2 separate regions of the Homo sapiens genome follow, and region 2 is linked to region 1. Evidence: fine-mapped expression QTL. A gene starts in region 1. The other region holds a variant in brackets. All regions are shown on one strand. Distances are from middle to middle.

Evidence for each region.
Region 2: its variant is fine-mapped to the expression of TAMM41 in spinal cord (GTEx, PIP 0.94).

Annotation. Positions count from the first base shown.
Region 1 is chr3:11,842,261-11,853,684 of GRCh38, forward strand. TAMM41 (TAM41 mitochondrial translocator assembly and maintenance homolog) reads right to left here and starts at 4,625. Exons shown (of 8, transcript NM_001284401.2): 1 at 4,242-4,625; 2 at 1,769-1,951. The coding sequence starts at 4,376.
Region 2 is chr3:11,797,262-11,808,685 of GRCh38, forward strand. It overlaps TAMM41 (TAM41 mitochondrial translocator assembly and maintenance homolog), which reads right to left. Exons shown (of 8, transcript NM_001284401.2): 7 at 10,572-10,634. Among named protein-coding and RNA genes, the nearest start is that of TAMM41, 44 kb to the right of the region's middle. The variant G/C (reference allele first, on the strand shown) is at 6,550.

The DNA of each region.
Region 1 (11,424 bases):
AGTGGGCTCTGTAATCCCAGCTACTCGGGAGGCTGAGGCAGGAGAATCGCTTGAACCTGGGAGGCGGAGGTTGCAGTGAGCAGAGATCGCACCATTGCACTCCAGCCTGGGCAACAAGAACAAAACTCCATCTCAAAAAAAAAAAAAAAAAAAGCAGAACCTTGGTGGGGCATGGTGGCTCACACCTGTAAATCCCAGTACTTTGGGAGGACTGTTTGGGGTCAGGAGTTCAAGACCAGCCTGGGCAACATGGCAAAACCCTGTCTCTACAAAAAATACAACAATTAGCCAGGCGTGGTGGTATGTGCCTGTAGCCCCAGCTACTTGGGAGGCTGAGACAGGTAGATGGCTTGAGCCCGGGAGGCAGAGATTGCAATGAGCGGAGATGGTGCCACTGCATTCTAGCCTGGGTGACAGAGCCAGACCCTGTTTCAAAAAAAGAAAAAGAAAAAAAAAAGGCAGAATCTCAGGTTCCATCTCAGACCAACTGAGTCAGGATCTGCACTGAAATGGGATCTCCAGGTGGCTCGATGCCGGCCAAAGCCTGACCGCCTTGAACAATGAGTGGCAGAGCTGGCACAGCAAGTGAAACCCATATGTCATCCCTGGCCCAGGGAAGCTCTAGGAAGCATCTGATTTAGACCCCTACTGATCCTTGCAGGCTGGGGTTCTGCCTAGGTCTTGACAGCTCTCTTGGAGACTGCGATGCTTCAGCTGAAAGACAGTTCAGCAAAGTTCCTGCTGTCAGATGAACCACCAGCAGGAATCCATGCAACTTACCTGCTCTCCAACAGCCCACTGTCAAATTCCACGCGTCTCCTGGCACCAAGAGGTTCCCGTCTATCACCTGACACACATGCTCTCAATCACCTGTGATATCCTCTTCACTTCCAACTTCTTCCTGGGGGTGTCTGCCCCTCCTTCTAGATAAAATCAATCTCCAACCTGACCCAAAATTGGCCTGCCTATTCCTCCCACTGACCAGACCAATGGTTCTAGACCAGCAGCTTCAGCACTGTTTGGAAGTGTGTTAAGAGATGCAAATCTTCAATCCCTACCCCAGACCTAGTGATCAGAACTCTGGGGGTGGGGCCCAGCAATCTGTGTGTCCAATGGACACACAACCTAGGGGATTCTGATGCACACTAAAACTTGAGAACCACTTGGCCAAAGACAAAAAAATAAAGTCAGTGTGGCCGGGCTCAGTGGCTCACGCCTGTAATCCCAGCACTTTGGGAGGCTGAGGCGGGCAGATCACCTGAGGTCAGGAGTTCGAGACCAGCCTGGCCAACATGGTGAAACCCTGTCTCTCCTACAAGGTGGCACACGCCTGTAATCCCAGCTAACTGGGAGGCTGAGGCGGGAGAATCACTTGAACCCGTGAGGCGGAGGTTGCAGTGAGCTGCGATCACACCACTGCACTCCAGCCTGGGCAACAAGAGCAAAACTCCGTCTCAAAAAAATAAAAAAAATAAAATAAGTCAGTCACACCCAACCACCTCCTCACACTGCAATGACAGTTAATGGGACATGAGGAAGGACTCCAGTCCCTGCTCTGTCCCCAAGTTCAAGACGTCTGGCAGGAGTGTGAATGTTTCCTGACTATAAGAATATACATACTATAAAAACATACATATTTCCCGACTATAACAACGTCCAGCAGGAGTGTGAATGTTTCCTGACCACAAGAACATACATATTTAGCTGGCACTCTAATAACCCAGGTAAATAACCAGCCAAGTTAAGACAAAGGCCAGCAGTCACTTACCCTACCATTACACATGATCAATGAATTGTAGTAAACTCCAGCGCCATAGTTATTCTGGATGGACGTGATAATCTTGGGCCCTAAAACTTTTAGGAAAGAGTAGTGACTCCAATTTTTCTTCAGGTTCTTTGAATGCCATGCGACAGGGTCATCTACTGTGAACACAAAGTCCAGCATAGCATTCTGTGGAGTGAAGAAAAGAGAATAATTTCAGTATTAATTCCTAGAAAGGCAGCAAGAGAGCATGGAAAAGCTCTAACATACTACGCAATTATGATCAATAGTCAGAAGGCCTGGTGCTGTCATCAGAAATGTGAGCGAGTCTCTGGAACAAATATGAGCTTTGTTTTCATCAATGTAATAATAGCAAACACTTCTTTAACATGTATTGTTGTGCCAGCACTCTTTAAACACTTTATGGGTAACATACGCAGTCACTCCATTTATCCTCAGCACAACCCTACAAGGTAGCTACTGCTATTATCTCAATTTTATAAGAAACCAAGGCACAGGGGATGCTCTTTGCCCAAGGACACAGAGCTTGTGAGTGGCAGACCTAAGAGGTCTGGCTCCAAACTGTGTGTGCTGAACCACTGCACTACACTGCCTTTCACAAATGTAGCTAAATGTGCTCCGCTTTTCTTCTGGATCAAATTAGCACCACCTGGATAAACTCTACAAAATACTATATAAAAGGAAGTCAGTTATTTTATCTCTTACCTATTCACCAACCACTTATTGAGTACATAAGTAATGAACTCTGACAGGCCCTAGGGTAGAAGTATAGAGCTCAGAGTCTACTGGAGAGAATAAACAAATTATCACTACATTGACTTGATAGAGGAATGCAAAATGTACTAACTGCACTCAGCATAGGGATCAGATCAGGGGCACAGGAGGGAGAAATTCTCCTAGAGATGACAAATCTGAGTCTTGAAGGACACGTGAGTTAAACAGACTTGCTGGAAGCACTGGGGGAAGCACAGGGAAGGGTAGGGAGCCGTGTTGGAGGAAAGTGCTCTGTGGATATGGGAGCCAGCATGTTCTGGAAGCTGCCGTCAGATATGACTGAAATAGAACACATTTATGCGGTGGGAGATGAGATCAGAGAGGGAGGCTGTTTGCCATGCTAGAAAATTTTCCTGCAGAAGAGCTGACTGGAGAGAAGAGGGACTAAGGGGGTGGGGGAATTAGATCTGAAGCCATGGCAAGATTCCAGGGGAGAAATGAAATTATATTAGCTAAGGCGCTAAGGATGGGGACTGATGTGAGAAAGATGTAGGTGTTGGAATCTACAACTTGTTCACTTGAATGTAAGGAATCAAAAGTGAGGGAATGGGAAGGAAGGACCTTTTCTTGCAGGGAATTCCAGGTCTATTCAAAGGAAAACCTCCATGGAAGAATGAAGAGGTGGCCATCAGGAGGCTAACGCCTGCTCTGTAGAGTGTGACTCTACAGACCACTGGGGACACTTGAGATTTGGTGGCGAGGCAGGTATGGAATAAACATGTTTTTTAAAAATGTGTAATTATGTTAAGGTAAATTCGGGAAAAATAACTAGCCTATAATAACCTATAATTTCTCATATGCTGCCAATTTAAAGAAAAATATTAAATAGTAGTGTAAGTGGGAAACAGAGGAAATCCAAGCAACAGCATAGATGGCCTCACCAGGAAGTGAACAGGCAGGATGTTAATCAGAAGACAGACTACAGTCAGGTATCCAGACGCAGGGGGCCCCATTAAAACCTGCACACTGAATTCTGCAAATTACAAGGAAAACTGTACCCTTACTGAGGCTGTGCTGAGCCAACTCTGAAAAGTAACAATGCCTAGTCTCAAACAGACCGTTGTTAAAAGTGCTGAGCGAGGGTAAATACACTGGTCACGCACTAACTTTTGATGTTAGTTACTTTCACTGCACCTGCCCTGGCCCTACAACCAGTCCGCCAACTTCCTGAAGTCAGAAGATCATTTTGCATTTTCTCCTACATTTATAGAGGTGACTCTCAACAAACTTGGCTGCGCATTAGAATCACCTGGGACGTTTCTTAAATTCCTGAAGCCCAGGCCTCATCCCAAACCAATTAAATCAGAATCTCCATCGGCGGAAGCCGAGCATTAGGATTTTCTTAAAAGCTCCCCAGAAAATTCCGATGTCCAGCCGACTAAAACACTGAAAGAACCTGATAACGATTTCTTTTCCTTTCTTCCATTTGCCCCTGCAGCAGTTTTTCCTTCTGCCTAACTGCTTCTCCTGCTCTAGACCCACGTGGATTCCTAAGTATCCTTCAACACCGTCGCTTCAACTCGCGCTGTCGTTATACTAGGAAGGCAGGCCTATGGTTCACTCTGCTAGTGGACACGTGGAGTGTGCAGAGCGGACAGGCAGCTCTCCGACTCTGAAGGAATCGAGGGCAAAACGGGACTCGTGAGAACAGACAGTTCCCCGTCGTGGGGCTGCCCGGGCTCACCTTCTGGTCTGAACTCGGCCCTGCCTGGCGGTACACCCCGGAGCCGTAGACGAAAGCCAGACTCAGCTCCTCGGGGAAGTGAGACAGGATCTTGCGGAAGGTCACCCACGAGCTCTGCAGCGTCTGCAGCGCCATGGGGTCGAGGCTAACAGGGGACACTCAGCGCAGCAGGGCGAGGACAACCGGGCGGGGAACAGACACCGGGTAGGCGGTTTAGGGTGGGAAATGGAAGTCGGAGACTGGATCGAGGGACACAAGGCTGAGTGTGGGGTGGGACTGCAAGCACACGCAAGGATTGGGGCGTTGGGCCACGAAGAGCAGCGGCGAGAAGACGCAGCCCAGATAGGCTCGGGTGGGCGGCGGTCGCACAGGCAGAGCTTCCGTCCCTTGCTACGCCCCACGCACGCACAGGCGCTTCCAAGACGCAAGAGGCGGTGCTCGCCTTAGTGTGGGGAACGCGAGGCTTTGCATTGTCCCCTCGTGGTCGGAGGAGTGCCCTACAGGCTGGCGGCTAGGTTGCGACTTGGACAAATCGGCGGAGGCGAGCGTCACCCGACTCCGCGGGCCCTGAGCCTTGATAGCCTCTGTACTTCTCTCTTCAAACTACGGTTTAAAGAATGACTATAAAATCGGGAGCGTATTGAAGGTTTTTAAGTGAGGCGACACTCACATAATATGGAACTAGCCGTTCTGAAATGGACAGTGTAGTAGCATGTAGTGCCTTCACAATATTGTGCCCCCATCATCGCTCTAGTTCCAAAATTGCAGATTTCGAAGATTTGGAAAAACACAAAATTAAAATGATGCCCAATCCCGCCATGTAGAGAATACCACCGTCAAGATTTGACGGAGACTTCTTCACGCTAAAGCCCTTTTCAAATACAAGGGTGGATATGGGAGTGCACAGACGTTCTCTGATACTTGCATTTAATTTCAAGGGTGGATCACAGTTTTTGCCCCCTTGCCTTGTGGAATGGTCTCACAAAGGGTGCTTCAAATGCAGTTTCTGGAGGAAACAGGACCCTAGGAGTAGAAAAATCTTACAGCTCTCCTCTTTGTATAACTGGAGAAACTTGCTGAAGATTACCATTCAGGAGGTGGTTTGACTTCCAGGACAGAAACTTTTTCAACTACCCTCTCCTTCCTCCCCAAAATACACTACCTCTCAAAAATAATAGAAATAGTAATAGCTAACATTCAGGTAATGTTGACACATTTTCACATGCACTTCTCACTGAGCACCCTCTAGTGCCCTGTGGCAGGAGGGCCTTGGTTTTACTGATGGCCAAGCTAAGGCTTAGAGAGGTAAAGCCAGGTGATAGGATCACATCAGCCTGTGGCAAAACTAGAGCTAAACCCAGGTCTGGCTCCAACTCTGGGATTTTTTCGGAAATTCTGCTCTGTCCTTGAAGGGTTTTGAGCAAGGACTTATGTAATTCACATGTTAGCCTGAATTGTGGGGGACTGATTAGACAGTTGTTATCATAGTTCCCCCATGAACTGGAAACGGCTAGGCCAAGGTCTTAGGAGCAGGGATGGGATTAAATCAATTGGAAAAATGATTACTTGCACTCACACTCTGGGCCTGCACTGAGATGAAGAGATCTGAGCTGCCTGCTGCCCTGCAGGAGCTAGGGGTCTGTAGAGGAGAGGAGACAGAACTGCAAATCAGAGTAGAATTTGGGTAATGCAGCCAGGTACCCAGCACAGTGCCGGAATGTAATGTCCCTCCAATGGGAACGTCAGTCAGTTCTGGGTGTTGGGGAAAGGGACCAGAAGAGGTTTCACAATGATGGCATTTTGAGCCAGGCCTGGAAGCTGGGTAGGAGTTTATCAGGTAGAAGATAGATGGGAAAATTCAACCAAGAAAGAATTGAAAGGACTCGGTGACAATAATACTAATAATAGGTGTCATTATTAAGCACTTAGTATGCCCAGGCACTTTTTAGACTTCTTTGGGGCTTTTCTGTTTTTGTTTTTTTTTTGAGACCGAGTCTTGCTCTGTTGCCCAGGCTGGAGTGCAGTGGCACGATCTCAGCTCACTGTGACCTCTGCCTCCTGGGTTCAAGCAAGCATGCCTGGCTAATTGTTGTATTTTTAGTAGAGATGGGGTTTCACTGTGTTGGCCAGGCTGGTCTCGAAATCCTGACCTCTAGTGATTTGCCCACCTCAGCCTCCCAAAGTGCTGGAATTACAGGCGTGAGCCACTGCACCCAGGCTTTTTATACTTGTTTCTTTTCATCACTCCAGAGATCCTATGAGGCAGGTTCTCTAAGATGATGATATTTTTCATACGAGGAAACAGAGGTCCTAAGAGGAGCAGTAAATGTTCCAAAGTCACACAGGAAAGTGGTGAAGTCGGGGTTTGAACCTAGGGCTACCTACCTCTAAAGGCCAAGGTCTTTACCACCATGTTTAAGTGTCCTCTACAGCGGCTTGCAGGGTGAGAGAAGGAAATGGGAAGAAAGCAGGCACTCAGGCATCAGCCAAGAGTCAGGAGCAGCAGCAGTAGCCGCAGCAACAAGCAGGAGACCAGGGCAAGGGAGCGGAGAGAGGCCGTTTGTCTGCGGCCCCTGGTGTGGGCATGGTCACTTCCGTTCATTTTTACTACATATCGCCCTTGCCCAGGGTGCCGGAATCAGAGTGCACTCACCGTGGAATTACACTGAAGCCTCTCACCCAAAGACAGTGAATAAATCTCATTACCAGCCGGTTCCTTTTTTATTTCCTTCCTTCCCTTGGGGAAATAATTCAACGTCATTGGATTTTTCCTGTTTGCAAAAGTAATCCATGTTCATAAAAATGTAAACATTATGAAATACATACATCATGCCCCAGAAATAGCCACGGTAATCTTTGGCACATATTCCTTCCAATATTTTTCTATGAATATATTAACATTAAAAACAATTTTAAGTGGATTCCTAGGATAGATACTATTTTGCAATTTGCTTTTTTTGCACTTAGCGTATCAGGGACAATGTTCTGTGTCAGAATATATAGATTTCCCTCATTCCATGTATTAGTAGCAAATTATTCTAAGATATGGATATGCCATAATTTTGTTTAAAATTTTTTGTTTAAAAGAAAGTGTTTAAACATTTTCTTTCTCTTTCTTTCTTTCTTCTTTTCTTTTGTTTCTTTCTTTTTTTTTTTTTTTTTTTGAGAGCGAGTCTTGCTCTGTCACCCAGGCTGGAGTGCAGTGGCACAATCTAGGCTCCCTGCAACCTCCACCATCCGGGTTGAAGTGATTCTCCTGCCTCAGCCTCCTGAGTAGCTGGGATTACAGGTGCCCGCCACCACATCTGGCTAAGTTTTGTATTTTTCGTAGAGACAGGGGTTTCACTATGTTGGCCAGGCTGGTCTCGAACTCCTGACCTCAAGTGATCCACCCGCCTCGGCCTCCCAAAGTGCTGGGGTTACAGGCATCCTGGCCTGTTTAAACATTTTATTGTTGATGGATGTAGGTTATTTCTAGTTTTCACACCTGCAAACAATGCTATCATGAGCATCCTTGTACATTTTATGTGCATGAACAAGTATTGCTATAAGACAGATTCCTAGAAGGGGAATTGCTGGGTCAGAGTGTCAGCACGCTGCTAAATTCCCCTCCAAAAGATGGTGCCAATTCACACACCCACCAGCAGAGTTCAGCCCTTGATAGAAATAAAGATGCTGCAATGTTTCTCCATTTGTCTCCCTTACAGGCGTTCACACCCAATTATCAGCAATTTTCATGTTCACAAACACTTTTCTTCCTGCAATGCAAAACCACCAGCTGGAAGGTTCCATCACATTCCTGTGTGCATTTTGCCTTTCCCCAGAAAGAGGCAGAAGCAACGTAGCCACGAACACATTTGTATTCTTCAGCAGAAATCTCCCTGCTCCTGGCCCTTCATCCACCCACTCTCTTTTAAATTACCATGGCTTGTGAAATTAGAGGCTATTAGGAAGACCCAGTGTTCTATATAATCGCTTTAGGGTTCTGTTGGAAAGCTTATACCAATGAAATAAACATGTTAGAGAGCCACTTACAAATATAGATAAATGCCTGGTGACTCGAGTGAATATTGGGCCTCATTCTTCTGATTTATCTAGCAGTTGTCTTTGTATTCCTTAATAATGACCTTGTCAGGCTTTCACTAGGAGAAGGTTCATCGAATCCATGTAATCCATTTTTTTTAAAGCCCTGTAAAAAAACATCTATGGCTTTAATGCTTTTTTTTTTTTTTTCTAATCAGTGTTTAAGTACAGGAGAGAAAAATGTTTGGGGAAGAATAAAAATCCAGGCTCAGTGGTTCTTACAATTAGCCACATGTTCAATTGGTCTGCTGATGGAGGGGAAGGAGAGGGGTCTTGATCTCCATCTTGTCAGAGGTGGGTCACCCTGTCCCATTTGTCCATTCTCGGCTGATTGATGGTTAGAACTGGGACAGACTGGGAGCATTTTTTCGTTTTTTCTTTTCTTTTCTTTCTTTTCTTTTCTTTTTTTCTTTTCTTTTCTTTTTTTTTTTTTTTTTTTTTTGAGACAGGGTTTCACTCTGTCACCCAGGCTGGAGTGCAGTGGCACGATCTCGGCTCACTGTAACCTCTGCCTCCCAGGCTCGAGTGATCCTCCCACCTCAGCCTCCTGAGTAGCTGGGATTACAGGCATGTACTACCACACCAGGCTAATTTTTGTATTTTTGTAGAGAATGGGGTTTCACCATGTTGTCCAGGCTGGTCTTGAACCCTTGAGCTCGAACAATCCACCCACCTAGGCCTCCCAAAGTGCTGGAATTACAGGCGTGAGCCACTATGCCCAGCCAACTGAGAGCATCTTAATACATCTTTAGTGTCTGATCAGGGGCTTGAAGGTACCACCTGGGTTGGAATCCAGGCCCCAGGATTTAATAGCTGTGTGACCTTGGACAAGAAGACTTAGCCTCTCTGTGCTTTCCTTTCCTCATCTGCAGCCTGGGGAGAGTAATGACACCTCACTCACAGGGTTGTTGTGACAGCAAATGAAACAGTATCTAGAAAGTACATAGAATAGTGCCTGGAGTAAGCTTTCAATAAACGGAGGACATCCTCCTGAATTCTTAAGAGACAATGTACAAAAGGAATTAAGAAGCATAATTATACCTACATCTTTATGGCGTTTAGCATTTTACACAAAGCACTTTGCAGACATGATTTTATTTAGCTCTTAAAACAAATCCTGGGAAATTAGTAGCTACTATTTCAGTTTTACAGATGGATAAACTGAAGCTTAGAAAAAAGAATTGATGTGCCTGAAGTCACAGGGCTAATGGCAGCTGCTAATACAGCCTCCAAGTCCAATCCCTTTCCTCTTGCACGAGAAAAATAACACGGGGTGTTCATTTCACCAAGGGACCCATTCATTCATTGATTCATTCTCCCATTGAAACCTTCCTCATCCTTTAGTCCCAGCTCAGCTATCAAAGTGTTCTGTTCTCTGTGCCTTCCTAACCCTTTGCTTTTAGCTCTCTAGCTCTTGTCTTAAATATCAGATATGTCCATCAAGTACAATTATAAAAGGCTTAGGGGCCCTTTGAGGTCAGGAACCATATCTTATTAATCTTTCTGTCCTTTAGTGCCTAGTACAGTGCCTGAAACAAAATTTCTGCATTTGCAAATGTTATAGTCTGGTGGCAAAAAATTCACATGCATGCAAAAAAAAATACACTATGGAGAGTATAAACCAGATCTATACCACCGCAATGGTAAGACAGCAGGGGTTACTTTTTCTTCAGGGTTTCTGGGAAAGCTTCTTAGAGGGATGACATTTGGATTAGACCTTGGAAGATGACCAGCAGTTCACCAGAGAGTACACCGTGAAAAAATTCTAAGAAGAAAGAATTGCCTCCATACTGGGTCTTAGAATCCTCCTTCTAGGGGGACACTGAGTTTTCCAGTGGAGTTCAGGAAGACCATGGACTTTTACAGTACCAAAGAAATGAATAAATAATGGTGGAATTCCAAAGAACAGAGCAGGTATCTCATCTGAGAGGCAGAATGTGGAATCTGGATTGAGACTGCTTGGTTTCAATTCTCAGCCACTGATGATCTGTGTGACCTGGTGCAAGTTGGCTCTGTGTCTCAGTTTCCACAAGTATAAAATGGGGATAATAAGAGCGTCTACCTCCCAGAGTTGTCATGACAACTAAGCTGGTTAGATCAATCTCTGACATGTAGTGAGTACTACGTATGTGTTTACCCTTCTGATTCTCCACTATCCCTGAAATTCAAGCTGGTCAGCAGCTGCCCACTTTATCTCTCTGTAGAACTGGCCCTGAATTTTGGGAGAAACTGAATTGGCAAAGAACTGAGTTAGAAGAGAAAGAATTAGTTACCATATACCAAGTCTGTCTCTGGCATGAACCCCTGCGATCTGGGTTTGGTGTAAAGCAGCTTGTCCCAAGGAGGGTTATTTGATAAAAAATTCTATCAGCTAAGTTTGGGAAATTCTGGATTAAACAGAGGCAAATCGAGATCTTTGATGTGGGATTCCTCCGAGCATTAATATATTAATAAGCATTGTGAATCTCCAAGAGAGAAGCAGAACATGTAGCATTTTCCAATCTCCCAGACTAGGTTTTCCTCCATCCTCTGCTCCCTCCACCTTCTCTCTCAGTGTCTTCTGGGATTCATATTCTGTGGCATAAATTTAGGAAGCGCTGGTGCCAAGCACTCCCTTGCTGTCCCAGAATCATCTCAGTGTCCCAAACCAATCAAGACTAATTTTCACGGACCTCTTTTGCCTGAAGGCACCAGGGGATCCTATAGCCTAAGAGAGAGATTGGGGAATTTCTCAACACATGAATTACGGTTATAACTTGTGGGTGTAAAAAGCCAAGAATTTCTACGCTTTGGACTCTGAGGATGTCTTTGTTCAGACCCAGAACTGACAAAACTCTAGGTACAATCTTCCTAGACTTACTTCCTACAAAGCGTTTAGAATGACACTTTCCAAACCTCCAGGGTAACCCTTTTGTGAAGTCCTAATTAGAGAAAAGGAGTTAGGCTGGTGAGAGCACGGGAAAGCAAAGAAAGAAAGAAAGCAGATAAGCTATGAGTCTGCCTTTCTTTGTGGTCCAGGACACGTAGCCCTCCTGTGCCCAACTTATCACTAGACACCTGTACAGCTCGCTGTAACCTTGGCGTTATCAATACTGCACAA
Region 2 (11,424 bases), 45 kb before region 1:
GTAACCAAAACAGCATGGTGCTGGTACAAAAACAGACACATAGACCAATGGAACAGAACAGAGAACCCGGAAATAAGGCTGCACACCTACAACTATCTGATCTTTGACAAAGTAGGCAGAAACAAGCAATGGGGAAAGAACTCCCTATTCAATAAATGGTGCTGGGAAAACTGGTTAGCCATATGCTGAAGATCGAAACTGGACCCTTCCTCATACCATATACAAAAATTAAGTCAAGATGGATTAAAGACTTAATTGCAAAGCTATAAAAACCCTGGAAGACAACTTAGGCAATACCATTCTGGACATAAGAATGGGCAAACATTTCCTGACAAAGATGCCAAAAGCAATTACAACAAAAGCAAAAATTTTAAATGGGATCTAATTAAACTAAAGAGCTTCTGCGCAGCAAAAGAACAAGACAGTGAAGAACAGAGTGAACAGACAACCTAGGAAATGGGAGAAAATTTTGCAAACTAGGCATCTGACAAAGGCTTTATGTCCAGCATCTATAAAGAACCTAAACAAATTTACAAGAAAAAAAACAAACAGCCCCATTACAAAGTGGGCAAAGGACATGAACAGACACTTTTCAAAGGAAGACATACATGCAGCCAACAATCAAAGGAAAAAAAGCTCAACATGACTGACTGATAATTAGAGGAATGCAAATCAAAATCACAATGAGATTCCATCTCACAGCAGTCAGAATGGTTGTCATTAAGTCAAGAAACAACAGAAGCTGGTGAGGTTGTGGAGAAAAAGGAACATTTATACACTGCTGGCAGGGGTGTAAATTAGTTCAACCACTGTGGAAGACAATGTGCCGATTCCTCAAAAACCTAAAAAGAGAACTGCCATTTGACCCAGCAAGCCTATTACTGGAGTACATACCCAAAGGAATATAATTCATTATATCACAAGGACACATGCATATGTATACTCATTGCAGCATTATTCACAATAGCAAAGACATGGAATCAACCTAAATGCCCATCAATCGTAGACTGCATAAAGAAAACGTGGTACATATACACCATGGAATACTATGCAGCCATAATAAAAAAGAGACCATGTCCTTTGCAGGGATATAGATGGAGCTGGAGGCCATTATCCTCAGCAAACTAACACAGCAACAGAAAACCAAATGCTGCATATTCTCACTTACAAGTAGGAGTTAAATGATGAGAACACACAGGACACATAGAAGGGAACAACAGACACTGGGGCATACTGATGGGTGAAGGATGGGAGGGGTGAGAGGATCAGGAAAAATAACTAATGGGTTCTAACTAGGCTTAATAAATAGGTGACAAAATAATCTGTGTAACAAACTTCTATGGCACAAGTTTACCTGCATAACAAACTTGCACATGTACCCCAAACTTAAAATAAAAGTTAAAAAAAAAGAACAAGGTGGAGAAGGATAGAGGTTCTGAAACTTACTGTGAGGATGAGGAAAGAGAAACAGGCAAACCAGTCACTCGGTGCCTGTCACTGTTAGTTTACTCCAGCTGGAGACCTGGGCCAGGGGCTAACACTATTCAAATATGACATTGTAAAGAGGCTTGTTTTAAAGAGAGGTCAGGAAACTTTTAGGTAATGATACCAAAAGAAGAAAAACCAGACACAATGCTAGATGCCTTAATATATCTTAAAATATAATCTCCTGGCCAGGTGCAGTGGCTTAACCCTATAATTCCAGCACTTTGGGAGGCTGAGGTGGGAGGATCACTTGAGCCCAGGAGTTTGAAACAAGCCTGGGCAACATAGTGGGACTCCATCTCTACAAAAAACAAAAACAAAACAAAAAAACAGCCAGGTGTGGTATTGCATCCTTTAGACCCAGGTACTTGGGAGGCTAAAGTGGGAGGATCACATCATTGTACTCTAGCCTGGGCTAGAACCTGTCTCCAAAAAAACAAAACAAAAACAAAAAAACAAACGTAAAATACACCATTGCACTCTGGCCTGAGCTAGAACCTGTCTCCAAAAAAACAAAACCCAAAACAAACAAAAAACCAAACATAATCTTCACAACCTGGTGAGGCAGGCATAATTATTCCTATGAAGTTAAAACTCAGAAAAATTAGGTAACTTGCCCAAGTCACACTGGTTAGGTTGTAATTTGAGCTCTAGTCTCTGCGGCTCACAAACCTCTGCCCTCAGCACTATGCTAGGAAACCTTTGTCACAGCCCTTGGCCATAATAAACAGAGCAGCCAGAGCATAAGGCCATTTAACCCACAGAATCTGAAGGGGTGCTCATCACTTTCCATGCTTTATGTCACCTCAGTGTGAGGTAACATACATTCTGTCACTCTGGACTTCCACAATGCAATGTGGCATCATTAGAAGTGAAGAAAAGGCTGTGCAGGAAGAGAGGTTAAAATGTTTAGAAAAATTTATTTAAGGAAATAATCAATGAAAGCTTCCCAAGTCTAGCAAGTGTGTCAGATATCCAGATACAAGAGACCCAATGACCCCCAGGTGAATACACTGCAAAAAGGACTTCAACATAGCATACTATAATCAGAAGGTCTAAAGTGAAAGTAAAAGAAACAATTTTAAAATAAGCAAGAGAAAAGCATCTAGTCACCCATAAAGGAAACCTCATCAGACTAACAGTGGACTTTTCAGCAGAAACCTTAAAGGCCAGAAGAGAATGGGATAGCATTTTTAAAGTGCTGAAGGAAAAAAACCCTGTCACCCAAGAATTTTATATCCTGCTAGAATAAGCTTCATAAATGAAAGAGACTAGTCTTTCCTAGACAAATACTAATGGAATCTGTCACCACTAGACCAGCCCTATAGGAAATGCTCAAAGGAGTCTTAAACATGGAAACAAAACGCTGATATTCACCATCACAAAAATACCCAGAAATATAAAACTCACAGTTCTTATAAAACAATCTCACAAAAGAGGAAAAGAAAGAAATCAAATTACAGAATTTCATCAAAACACAAGGACAAAAAGAGAAAAAGAAAGAAAACAAAGAATTTATAAAATAACTTGAAAATAACCATGTGACAGAAACAAAACCTCACATATCAATATTAACTTTAAATGTAAATGCATTAAATGCTTCATTTAAAAGATACAGACTGGCAGAATGGATTAAAAAAACATAATCCACCTATATGCTACCTACAAGAAACTCACCTTACCTGTGAAGACACAAATAGACTGAAAGTAAAGGGGTGGAAAAAGATATTCCATCCAAAAAGAAATCAAAAGGAGAACTATATATATGTCAAATAAAACAGACTCTAAATCAAAAACAGTTAAAAAAAAAAAAAAAGACTAAGAAGGTCATTATATAATGATAAAGGGATCAGTTCACCAAAAGGGTACAGCAAATCCTAAATATATATGCACCCAACATAGGACCACCCAAATTCACAAAACAAATATTACTAGCTCTAAAGAAAGAGATAGATAGCAACACAATAACAGTGGGGGACTTCGACATTCTACTCACAGCACTATACAGACCATCGAGGCAAAAAATTAACAAAGAAACACTGGACTTTAGACCAAATAGACTTAACAGACATTTACAGAACATTCTTCCCAACATCTACAGAATATATGTTCTTTTCATCAGCACATAAAACATTCTTCAAGCATGGGCTACATAGGGAGACTTTGTCTCTACAAAAAATAAGATTAAAAATAAATGTAGCCAGGCATGGTGGTATGTGCCTGTGGTCCCAGCTACTCAGGAGGCTGAGGTGAGAGGACTGCTTAACCTTAGGAGGTCAAGGCTACAGTAAGCCATGATCACACCACTGCACTCCACCCTGGGCAACAGAGCAAGACCCTGTCTCAAGAAAGAAAAAAAAAAAAAAGGAAGAAGAAACATTCTTAAAGATAGATCACACATCACACATTAGGCTACAAAACAAGTCTTAACAAATTTTAAAAAATCAAAATCAAGTATCTTCTCAGACAATAGTAGAATAAAGCTAGAAATCAACATAAGAGGAACTTCAGAAATGATACAAGTACATGGAAATTAAACAGCATGCCCCTAAATAATCACTTAATCACTGGGTTAATGAAGATTTTTTTCCCCTGAGACCCCTGAGACAGGGTCTTACTGTGTCACCCAGGCTGTGGTGTAATCATGGCTCACCGTAGCCTCAAACTCCTTTGGCTCAAGTGAGACTCCTGCCTCAGCCTCCTGAGTAGCTGGGACTACAGGCACATACCACCATGCACAGCTGCACAGCTAATTTTTTTGTAGAAATGGGGTTTTTCCACGTTGCCCAGGCTGGTTTCAAACTCCTAGGCTCAAGCAATCCACCCACCTCAGACTCCCAAAGTGCTGGGATTACAGGCATGAGCCACCATGCCTGACCTTAAAAATTTTTGGAAACAAATAAAAATGAAAACACAACATACCAAAGCCTGTGGGATGCAGCAAAAGCAGTGCTAAGAGGGCATTACTAATGTTTACAGCATTACATGTCTACATAAAAAAGTAGGAAGATCACAAATTAACAACCTAATGCCATACCTCAAGGCATTGAAAAATATAACGAAAACTATAACAAGAAAAAAAATAACTAAACTCAAAGTTAGCAGAAGAAAAGAAATAACAAAGATCAGAGCAGAACTAAATAAAATGGAGACCAAAAAACAATACAAAGTATCAACAAAATGAAAAGTTGGGACTAGGTGCAGTGGCTCATGCCTGTAATCCCTGCACTTTGGGAGGCTGAGGCTGGCGGATCGAGATTCTAGGAGTTCAAGACCAGCCAGGGCAATGTGGCAAAATCTCACCTTGACAAAAAATACAAAAGTTAGCCAGGCATGGTAGTGTGCACTGTAGTCCCACCTACTTGAAAGGCTGAGGTGGGAGGATTGCTTAAGCCTGGGAGGCAAATATTCTAGTAAGCCATGATTGTGCCACTGCACCGTGTAGCCTGAGTGATAGAGCCAGACCCTGACTCAAAAAACAAAAAAGAAAAGTTGGTTCTTTGAAAGATACACAAAATTGATAAACCACTAGCTAAGACTAAGAAGACAAGAGAGATACAAATAAACAAGATACAAGACAAGAAGAGATACAAATAAACACAATCAGAAATGAAAAAGGAGACATTACAACTGATACCACAGACATACAGAAGATCATCAGAGACTATTATAAACAACTAGATGTCCACAAACTAGAAAACCCAGAGGAAACTGATAAATTCATGGAAACATAATCTTCAAGATTGAACCAGGAAGAAACAGAGTATCTGAAAAGATCAGTAATGTAGTAGCAAGACTGAATCACTAATAAAAATCTCCCAAGAACAAAAAGAAGCCCAGGACCTGATGGAGTCACAGCTGAACTCTACCAAACACAGAAAGAATGAATACCAATCCTTCTGAAACTATTCTAAAAAGATCAAGGAGGGAATTCTCCCTAACTCATTCTATGAGGCCGCTATCACCTTGGTACCAAACAGACAAGGACACAACACCACCAAAAAAGAAAATTATAGACCAATATCCCTGATGAACACAGACACAAAAATCCTCAACAAAATACTAGCAAATTAAATCCAACAGCACATCAAAAAGAGAATACATTATGATCAGGTGGGATTTATCCCAGGGATGCAAGGATGGTTCAATATATACAAATCAATAAATGTGATACATCACATAAACAGAATTAAGGACAAAAACCACATGATTGTCTAAATAGATGCAGAAAAAGCATTCAATAGCCTGGGCACAGTGACTTATACCTGTAATCCCAGCACTTTGGGAGGCCAAGGTGGGCAGATCACTTGAGATCAGGAATTCAAGGCCAGCCTGGCCAACATGGTGAAACTCCGATTTTACTAAAAATACAAAAATTAGCCAGGCATGGTGATGCATGCCTGTAGTCCCAGCTACTCGGGAGGCTGAGGCAGTAGAATTGCTTGAACCCAGGAGGCAGAGGTTGCTGCGAGCTGAGATTGCACCACTGCACTCTAGCCTGGGTGACAGAGATTCCGTCTCCAGCTACTCAGGAGGCTGAAGGGGGAGAATCGCTTGAAACCAGGAGGTGGAGGTTGCAGTGAGGTGAGATCGCGCCACTATACTCCAGCCTGAGCAACAGAGTGAGGCAGTTGCTCTGTCTCACAAAAAAAAACAAAAAACAAAAAACAGATGTTGGTGCAGATGTGGAGAAAAGGGAATGCTTATACACTGTTGAAGGGAATCTAAATTAGTATAGCCTTTATGGGAAACAGTATGGAGATTTCTTAAAGACCTAAAAATAGAATTAACCTTTGATCTAGCAATCCCATTACTATGTATACATCCAAAAGGAAAGAAATCATTATATCAAAAACAAAAACAAAAAAAACCACTCGTATGTTTACTGCAGCACTAGTCACAATAGCAATGATATGGAATTAACCAAAGTGTCCATCAATGGAGGACTGGATAACAAAAATGTGTATATATCTACATCTATATCTCACCTTGAATACTACTTAGCCATAACAAAGAATGAAATAATGTCTTTTGCAGCAAGATGGATAGAACTGGAGGCCACGT[G/C]TATAAGTGAAATAACTCAGAAACAGAAATTCAAGTATCACATGTTCTCACTTTAAGTGGGAGCTAAACAATGTGTATGCATGAGCATACAGAATAGAATGACACTGGTGACTATAAAAAGTGTGAGGGTGGGAGGAGATGAGGGTTGGAAAATTACCTATTGGGTACAATATTCACTATTTGGGTGATGATGGGTACACTAAAAGCCCAGACTTCACCATGTAAGAAAAATGCACTTGTATTCCTTAAACGTTTTAAAAATTAAAAAGAAAAAAAAGTGAAGGGGAAGCAAGCAGTAAGCACTCAGGGGAAGCAGCATCAGCACTCCAGGGCCACAAGGACAGCTGAGCTGTGGGTTCTGTGATCAACTGCCCTCTGCTGGTGAGTAGAAATAATGAGTGGAAAGAGGACCAAAGGCTCATTTCAGGTTGAAGGTGTCAAGAAGATCTTTTTCAGCCTTTTATTAGAGAAAAATTCAAACTTAAATAACAGACAGAAGAGTATAAAACAGCCCCATGCATCTTTACCTAGCTTTGACAATATATCAGCTCATGGCCAATCTTGTGTCATCTACCCATTACCCACTGCCCTCTGCCATGTTTTATTTTGAAGCAAATCCCAGACAACATATCATTGCATCTGGAATTATTTTAGTATGCATCTCTAAAAGAAAGGGAATTTTTTAAAAAGCTCCATAACACCACCATTGTCACAACTGAAAAATAATTAACAATAATTCTAATAATTCCAATAATTCCTTATAGCATGGGACGCCAACAACAAAACAAATCATTAAGCCTCACCCAAGGAGGATCATGGCAAGGGAAAGGCAATCATGCAAAATTCAGATTAACAGCATGAATCACCCAAACAAACAAAAGTACCTCATCTTCAGTCTTGCCAGAGTAAACTAGCAGGAACATAGATTAAATGAATATCTTAACTGGAAATGCAAAGCCATGCACCCAAATGGTAGGAAAATCTTTAGTTCAGCAGATGTGACACAAGTGCTACTAAGTCTTTGTTGAAACTTTTATACAATGTTTTTATTATTATAATTTTTTTTTTTTTTGAGACAGGGTCTCACTCTGTCACCCAGACTGAAGTGCAGTGGTGCGTTCTTAGCTCAATGCCGCCTCGACTTCCTGGGCTCAGGACTACGGGCGCGCACCACCACGCCCAGCCCTTTTTTTTTTTTTTTTTTTTTTTTTTTTGAGACGAAGTCTCACTCTCGCCCAGGCCAGAGGCAGTGGCACAATCTTGGCTCACTGCAACTTCCGCCTCCCAGGTTCAAGCAATTCTCCTGCCTCAGCCGCTCAAAGGTGGGACTACAGGCATGTGCCACCACGCCCAGCTAATTTTTTGTATTTTAGTAGAGACGGGGTTTCACCATGTTGCCCAGGCTGGTCTCAAACCCCTGAGCTCGGGCAATCTGCCTGTCTCGGCCTCCCAAAGTACTAGGATTACAGGCATGAGTCACCACATCCAGCCTATTTTTTCTATTTTTTTAGAGACAGGGTTCCACCATGTTGCCCAGGCTGATCTCAAACTCCAGGACTCAAGTGATCCTCCTGCCTTGGCCTCCCAAAGTGCTGGGATTATAGGTGTGAGCCACCGCATCTGGCCTATTTTTGTTATTTTTAAAGAGACAGGGTCTTGCTGTGTTGCCCAGACTGGTCTTGAACTCTTGAGCCCAAGCAATCCTCCCGCCCTGGCCTCCCAAAGTGCTGGGATTATAAGTGTGAGCCACCATGCCTGGCCTTGTTGAATCTTTCCAGTGATTCAGGAGGGCAACACGGTCCTTGAGGGCCAAATGCTCAGAGGAGTATCCAAGCAGCTGGGCTATGAGACACTGAGAGGTGTGACCATACCAGCTCCCCAGCAATCTCAAACCCAGGGATTAGAATTAGGTTGAAAGATCACTCCCCTTTTTGGGCTACCTCTGTGCTATTTCTCCCTCTCTTGCAAATTTCTGTTAGCATGTCTCTTTTCCCTTCTAAATTATACGCCTCTGCAAGTCAGTATAGCATTTGATATGGTTTGGCTCTGTGTTCCCACCCAAATCTTACCCTGAATTGTAATAATCCCCACGTCGTGGGAGGGACCTGGTGGGAGGTAATTGAATCACGAAGGCAGGTCTTTCCTGTGCTGTTTTCATAATAGTGAATAAGTGTTACGAGATCTGATGGTTCTATAAAAGGGAGCTCCCCTGCACATGCTCTCTTGCCTGCCGCCATGTAAGACATGATTTTGCTCCTCATTCACCTTCCGCCATGATTCTGAGACACCCCCAGCCATGTGGAACTGCTAATCAATTAAACCTCTTTCCTTTATAAATTACCCAGTCTGAGGTATGTCTTTATTAGCAGCATGAGAACAGACTAACGCAGCGTTGTGTTCACTTTTGTATCCCGAGCAGCTGGCACATGAGAGATGCTCAATGGATGCTTGCATGAAGAAAGCCTGAACTAGAAAAGTCTATCACTTGATGATGCCAAATGTTGGAAAAAATGGGAAGAAAAGAGTATTCTCCTACTCTGCTTGTGGGACGATGAACTGATACAGCCACTTTGTCCTCCAAAGAGATGTCAAATATTTAGGCCATAAAACAAGAATAGGATGCAAAAAACAGGAGCATTCAGAGAACAGCAAGAAAAGAGAGAGTTCCTGGAAATTATAAACACTCAACAGAAGGGTTGGAAGCTAAAGTTGAGAAATTCGAGAAAATCTTCCAAAGCAGAGCAAAAGAAAAACAGATAAAAAATAGAAGACAAAAGAAAGAAAACCAAAGACTAATCTAGGGGGTGCAATATCTGAATAAAAGGAGTTCCAGAAAGAGAACAGAGAAAACAGATGGGACAAAATTAAAGAAAAAATTTAAAACATTTTTCTTATATGCTTATATTCTGAGTTTCCCAACAGAAAGGGCAATGAATTCCCGGTAAAACAGATAAAACAGATAAAAACAGACTCACATCAAAGCACATCACTGAGAGAATTCAGAGCACTGGGGAAAAATAAAGACCTAACATGCTTCCAGAAATAACATACACAAAGGATTAAGAATCAGATTGGCTTTAGACATAGACAACAATCCTAGAAGTAAAAGATAAATGCAGCAATGATCTCAAAATTTTAAAGGAAAGTGATTTCTAATCAATACCCAGCCTAAGTATTAACTATGGGTGAAGACAGACAAAAAAGACTTTCAGACATACGTGGTCTCCAAATGTGCCTTCCATGTTCCCCTTCTCAGGAAATTACTGGAAAATGTGCTTCACCAAAATGAGAGTGTGCACCAAGCAAGTGAAAGACATGAGATACAGTAAATGGGGGACCCCCTAGAGGGGACAGCGAAGACACTCTCCATGAGAGAAGAACATTATGCAGGGAAGGAAAGGTGTACTCTGTGGCTCACCATACCATCAAACTGAAAACTAATTAGCCAAAACCACCAGACAACTATATTAGGAGGACAGAGGGATGGGAGGGTGCGTACATTTGATGAGGGTGGGTGCCAGAGTTGACTTCTAACCTCCCATAGAGAGAAGTCAATAGATGATACCTAAAGTTGAAACGTAGAGAAGGAGCAACGAAAACTTACCATTTAGAGAAATGGCAGTAACAACAAAAATAACCCACTAAGACAGATGGAAGCAGTTGTCTCAGAGAAGGGGAAGAGGAGGGGGAGCACAGATGCTGCTGTTTTTGCAATCCTATGCATCTGTAACTTTGATAAATAAAACAATATGAGGGAAAAACCCTGCACACAGGAAGTGTCTCAGAAAATTCAGAAGGGCAGTAAAGCTTCCAACAGCACTGCCAATGGTCTGACATTGTTCGACCACCAGGTTCTGCTGCTGTTATGCCTGTTTGTACCTTACTGCAATATCCCAGTTTATGGCCATCAAAGCTCAGCATTTCACAAGCACCTAAAAGATACAAAGCTTTACACTGTAACCAAGAGTGTGGAAGCCACTCAGTCAGCAGGTATGTTACACACGGATTTCCAAAGCTCTTACCAGCAGTAAAAATGCCTTTCGTGCTCTGTCTTATACTAGACGGTCTCACGATTGCTGAAAGCCCTGCGAGAAAAAAACCAAAAAGGAGACCAAAAAAACCCAAAACAGATGTTAGTCATCTTAACAGTTTTAAAACTTGAAACTAAATATTCTTTCTAGTCAGCCAATCAAACCACCAAATCTATCTCTGTCCTGCTGTCACAGTGACAATGAAAAGGGCAGTGGGATTGAGGGCCAGGAGACCAGAGCAGCCAGCCGTGGCGCCACCCGGCTGTGTGAGTCCAAGCCGATGACCGAACAGCTCTGTGCCTCTTCCCCTTAAAACAAGGGGATGGGTTAGCTGACCCTCAAAGGGCATTTTATGACTTAAATCTGCTTGAGATTTCTGGTTCTCAATTCCATAACATGAAAAGATAAAAACCAAATGATTACATCTACGAGAAAAACTTTCATTCTGAAAACACACATACGGATTCCACAGTGAGGAACAAGTTTCACTCACCTCAAAGAGACGGCCCAGATCACACTGTTGCCAGGATCATGTTCAAACAAACAACAGTGTGCCTCGTACAGAGCTATCTTCAGGATGGGGAGCTGGTGACCTAAACACACACTCTGCAAACCTAGTGCAGGCCCAGGAGGAGAGTGGGCGTGGAGCGCCTGCTGCAGCTCATCCACTGCAGTGCGATGGTCTTTGCAAAGCATTACTGGAAATTCTATCTGGCACGCGGAGGAGCTCAGTAAATATTTACTGAATGAAAACAGGAGAATGCACTCAATTGACAGAGGGACTCATTCTCAATTTCATAAATATTTCTTGATTGACTGATCTCATAAATTACCTTTAGCACCT